2 separate regions of the Homo sapiens genome follow, and region 1 is linked to region 2. The links come from fine-mapping of genetic effects on gene expression. A gene starts in region 2. The other region holds a variant in brackets. All regions are shown on one strand. Distances are between the middles of the regions. Region 1 overlaps ZNF251 (zinc finger protein 251). Region 2 holds the start of ZNF34 (zinc finger protein 34).

What was found. PIP is the estimated chance that this variant, and not a neighbour inherited with it, causes the effect.
Region 1: its variant is the best candidate, but not a certain one, in a credible set for the expression of ZNF34 in blood mononuclear cells (TOPMed, PIP 0.85).

Annotation. Positions count from the first base shown.
Region 1 is chr8:144,739,991-144,742,788 of GRCh38, forward strand. The region is part of intron 4 of ZNF251 (zinc finger protein 251); the gene reads right to left. All of the region lies in intron 1 of LOC107986986 (a long non-coding RNA gene), which reads left to right. Among named protein-coding and RNA genes, the nearest start is that of ZNF251, 14 kb to the right of the region's middle. The variant C/T (reference allele first, on the strand shown) is at 1,139.
Region 2 is chr8:144,786,196-144,788,993 of GRCh38, forward strand. It overlaps ZNF34 (zinc finger protein 34), which reads right to left and starts at 1,122. Exons shown (of 6, transcript NM_001286769.2): 1 at 1,084-1,122. RefSeq lists a silencer at 851-1,210 and enhancers at 1,361-1,590, 1,631-1,690.

The DNA of each region.
Region 1 (2,798 bases), 46 kb before region 2:
ACAGAAAAATACATGCCAGGTGCCATGGCTCACGCCTGTAATCCCAGCACTTTGGGAGGCCGAGGCGGGCAGATCACCTGAGGTCCGGAGTTCGAGACCAGCCTGACCAACATGGAGAAACCCCGTCTCTACTAAAAATACAAAATTAGCCAGGTGTGGTGGTGCATGCCTGTAATCCCATCTACTCCGGAGGCTGAGGCAGGAGAATGGCTTGAACCCGGGAGGTGGAGGTTGCTGTGAGCCGAGATCGCGCCATTGCACTCTAGCCTGGGCAACAAGAGTGAAACTCCGTCTCAAAAATAATAACAACAGAAAAATACAAACAAGCAAAATGAAGTTTTGTTGTGTTTTAACTTCATTTTCAGGCTGGGCGCAGTGGCTCATGCCCGTAATCCCAGCACTTTGGGAGGCCGAGGTGGGTGGATCACCTGAGGTCAGGAGTTCGAGACCACCCTGGCCAACATGGTGAAACCCTGTCTCTACTAAAAATACAAAATTAGCAGGGTATGGTGGCAAGCACCTGTAATCCCAGCTACTTGGGAGGCTGAGGCAGGAGAATCACTTGAACCTGGGAGGCAGAAGTTGCACTGAGCCAAGATGGCACCACTGCACTCCAGCCTGGGCAACAAAACAAGACTAAATCTCAAAAAAAAATAAAAATAGGCCACCATGGTGGCTCACGCCTGTAATCCCAGCACTTTGGGAGGCTGAGGCGGGCAGATTGCCTAAGCTCAGGAATTCGAGACCAGCCTGACCAACATGGTGAAACCCCATCTCTACTAAAAATACAAAATTAGCTGGGCGTGGTGGCAGGTGCCTGTAATCCCAGCTACTCGGGAGGCTGAGGCAGGAGAATCACTTGAACCTGGGAGGCGCAGGTTGTGATGAGCTGAGATGGCGCCATCGCACTCCGGCCTGGGCAAGAAGAGCGAAACTCCGTCTCAAAAAACAAAAAAAAAGAAACAAAAAAAAACCCCCAAAAATAAATAAATAAAAATAATGAAATAAAACTGCATTTTCAAGGACAACAGGAGGCCCTGGAGGCTGAGTTCCTCGAAGTGCTGCCGAAGGCAATGCCAGAAGGGAACAGTCCCAGTAGCCGGAAGGAGCCACAGAAAAGCAGCATCGCAAACGCAGA[C/T]GGGCCCGAGGTGGATCTCAAAAGTGTCCAAAAGGAGCTGGCCCAACCCAGGAAAGAACATCTGTGAGTGGGGCCAATACTGACGATGGCAGAGCCCTGGGACAGGCCAACACACAAGCCTCAGAAAGCTCAGTGCCCAGGGCACAGTGGTGACAGCTCGTGGATATGCCAGCAAAATCTAACTTGTGAAGGTACATGCTGGTGACCAGCTGCACAGATGTACACACACACTCATACACACACTCACACACACTCACATGCGTAAACATGTACATACACACGATGCAGATACACATACACCCATACATACAGAATCCACAGTCTCCACTCCAAAATTAACAAACACATAAAGAACCAAGAAAATAGAGCACGTTTTTGTGAGAAAAGGAAATCAACCATCTGACCCTGAAATGAGTCAGATGTTGAAACTAACAGACAAGGATTTAAAAACAGGAATTATAATTATCCTCAGTGAAGTAAAACAAAACAGGAAAATCTCAGGGAGTGAAAACTCTCAGCAGAGACACAGAAATAATAAAAAGGAATAAAACAGTCATTCTGGAACTGAAGAACACAATCTCTGAAATAAAGCATTACTTGACAGACTAACAGCTGAATGGGCACAATAAAGGAAAGAGTAAGTCAACTTGAATCGAGATGAACAGAAATTATCTGAAGAATACAGATAAAAATATTTTAAAAATAATAAACAGCCTTACAAATCTGTTAGATAATTCAAATGGTCACTTATAATTGGTATCTCAGGAGACCAGAGAGAGAATGGTACAGAAAGAAATGTGAAGAAATAATGGTCAAAAATTTCCCAAATTTGATGAAAGACAGAAATCTACAGGATCAAGATGCTATATGAACACCTAGCAGAGTAAAAACCAAGAGGCCGGTGCTGCAGTACATCAGAGTCCACCTGCTGGGAACCGAAACGACAGGCAGCTCACCTCAAAAGCAGGAGAGTGACCCACGACACACCACGAGCCAGTGATCCCATGAATGGCTGACTCCTCATCGAAAGTCAAGGAGGCCAGAAAAGAGTAAAATAGCAGCTTTAAAGTGCTGAATGGGAAAAGGAAAAAAAAAAGCAAAATAAAGGTACTTTCATACACGAGAAAACTAAGAACTGGGGCAGCAGACTCGCACCACGAGAAATGCAAAGGTCTTTGGGCTGAAGGGAAATGGTGCCAGCTAGAAACTCAGATCATCAGAAAGGGATGAAGAGCACTAGAGATGGAAAATCTGGGGAAACATGAGATTTTTTTGAAAATACTTTATTTTTAGAGCATTTCACAGCAATATTAAGCAGAAAACACAGTTCCTGCATACCCCACCCCCCACACACCTCCCCCACTACTTACCTCCCGCAACAGTGATAACAGCGTCACAATGAATGAACCCACACTGACACATCATGACCATCTAAAATCTCAGTTTAGGGCTCACTCGTGGTGCCGCGTGATCTATGGGTTTTGCATCCACCACTGCAGTACTGTACAGACTAGTGTCACCGCCCTAAAAATCCTCTGGCTTCACCCTGCTTCTCTACTCCTTGGCACTGCTGATCTTTTTGCTGTCTCTATAGTGTTGCCTCATCCAGAATGTCACATAGTTGGAATCATACAGTATAGGTGTCCGTTGGTAAACAAAG
Region 2 (2,798 bases):
CAGGATGGTCTCGATCTCCAGACCTAGTGATCCCCCCCGCGCCTTGGCCTCCCAAAGTGCTGGGATTGCAGGCGTGAGCCACCGTGCTCTGCCATACATATGTAGATTTTTAAGAGACAAAAACAGTATTAGGTTTGTAGAGATATAAGAAAACGAGGCCGGGCGCAGTGGCTCACGCCTGTATTCCCAGCACTCTGGGAGGCTGGGGCGGGCAGATCACTTGAGGTCAGGAGTTCGAGACCAGCCTGGCCAACATGGTTAAACCCCATCTCTACTAAAAATACAAAAATTAGCTGGGCATGGTGGCGGGCGCCTGTAATCCCAGGTATTCGGGAGGCTGAGACAGGAGAATCCCTTGAACTCGGGAGGCGGAAGGTGCATTGAGCCGAGATCGCGCCATCGTACTCCAGCCTGGGCGACAGAGCGAGACTCCGTCTCAGAAAAAGAGAGAGAGAAAGGAAAGAAGGAAGAGAAGAGAAAAGAAAAGAAAGAAAAAATAAAGAAGAGAAACAAAAATCTGGCTGCCTGGCTGCGGGGAGAAAAGCCTTGGAGCGCCAGAAGCGAGGAGGGTGGGGCGGAGGGAAGGCACAAGCAGAGGGAGGAGCACTGGCGGAGCGCGGACGCTAAAGGCAGGAGGGGCGGCATTCGCAGAGGGCTGGGAGGACCGCGAGACGCACGAGCCCCGCCCCTGAAAAGCTGACAGGAGAGGAGCGTGGGAGGGAGCCGGGATGGGAAGCCTCGGGCCGCTGGGACCAAGGGGTCTGGAGCGCATCGGGACGCAGAAGCCGCTCTGTGCGGCAGGAGTCCAGGGGACCCCGCGTGGGGCAAGGGAGTTGTCAGGGGCTCGAGAGCGGAAGGAGCCCCGTGAGGAGCGACCCCAGGGCTGGCAGAGAGCGGCGAGGCGCAGTCCGTACTCGGGGCCTTGTCCGGGGGGTCCCTCGAACAGGAAGTGCCGCTGATGGCGGGACGGACCCACGCCTGCAGCACCGCGAGAGGACCGGGCACAGGGGCAACGCGCAGGGGAGGGTCTGCGCCGGGAGGGTCTGCGCCCCGCGCGCCCGCCCCCGCCGGGCTCACACTCACCTCAGCGCCGCCGAGCAGCACGGCAGCCCAACCTCGCCCGTTCGGCCCTCCCTCCCCGCCAATCGGAACCGATCCGGAAGTGACGTCAGCCGACTGTCTGGGTCCGAGGCGCCGTCCGGGCCGCTCTGGGAAGCTAGGACGCCGCGTGTCGGCTGCCCACCTCCCTGGCTTGCAGTAAGGCTCCGGGGACCCGCGAATGGCAAAGCCGTAAAGCGGGAATGCTGCCACCGGGTGGCAGTCCGAAGCCACGGCCCAGAGGCCTCAGAACTGGGGCGATGGTCAGAGGCGAAAACATATTAGTCTTTCCCTTTTTCTGAGAAATTCTCTCCCTAATGATGCACGAAAGGCGCCGCAAACAAGAACTAGGCCCTTCGATTTACAGAGAAACGGGAACCGCACCCTTCCTTAGGGCCAAGAAAGGATGCTTACTGGCCAAAGAAGCCTGTCTTGGGTTTAACCTATTGCTCCTCATCCTTAACTCCTGTAAATGGGGCCCAGTGTCCACTCTGGAGAAAGGGTTTTTCGGGTGCCTGAGCTGCTTCTGGAACAAACTTTCCCTCATGGCCGGTCCATCGGCCAAGCCCTGCCGTCCACTTTGCCCAGAAGGGAGCAGAAAAACAGTGACCGCTTATGGCCAAGCTAAGCATCTAGTGCTTTCCCAAAACCCTCTTTCCAGATGCCCCTCCATCCTTCAGGAGGAAACACCGCCCTCCTGGATTCTTTCTCGACAAGTCAGCTGGGACCCTGGGACCGGCCCTGCGAATGACGAGATCAAAACCAGGTCCCGTAGTTACTGGCGGGGAGGCGGGGCTGGAGTGGGAGGACCACATGAGGCCAGGGGCTTGAGACCAGCCTGGCAATAGCGAGAGCCTGTCTAAAATAAACAGGCCCTGCTGGGTCACTGCCTAGGTGTGGTGGGCGCCCAAAGACAGGTGGGGCCATACCAGCAGGATCAGGAAAGCAAGATCACGAAATGGGGGGTAAGGTTCTCTAGAGACAGCGTGGACCATGACAGCCAGGAACCACCGCGCAGCCAGTTAGGACTTGTCATCCCGGAGTGACCACGGAAGCCTAAGGTGACTATTCTCACCTGCCAGGCACCCTCCAACCAAGTCTATAGGGAGAGACCGTGCCTCATCCTGCCTGCTGCAGTTCCACAGGAGTGTTGTTAGGGGCAGTGATCTGCAGCTGCTGCATTCGCTGGTGGAACTTCCTCGTGTGAAAGTGCTGATAGGATGCTGTCCTGGGATCTCCTCATTGGATCATGGTTAAGGGACAAGATGCCATGGGCTATGGCCAAACAGGAAGCCCCTCCACTCTGCCTTGTGACGGAAACCAGCTTACTTGCCCTCCCATTGCAGGGGGGGTTCCCCAACACTTCCAACCTGATTCCACTCAATCATCACTGTCAGCCTCATCACTACCAAAGCTAGAGAGAACCAAAGTATCAGCCCCTGCCAGCAGGGAAAGGCCATGTGCTTTAAGGTAATCAATGCAGCTTTGGGGGCTGTTCCTGGTTAGTTTCTCTGCCCCAGGGAAGAGGGGGCTACATGCCCTGCGAAGCTGTGGAGTTACAGGACTCAAGGAGCAGACCAACCTACTGCTGGTGCCAGCTCCAGTCCAGTGTAGGGCTCTGGGTGGGTGGGTGAAGGGACTTGGGTGGTCTGGGATTCCCCATACACACACTGCATGCATTCATCCCTTTGTTCAGCAAT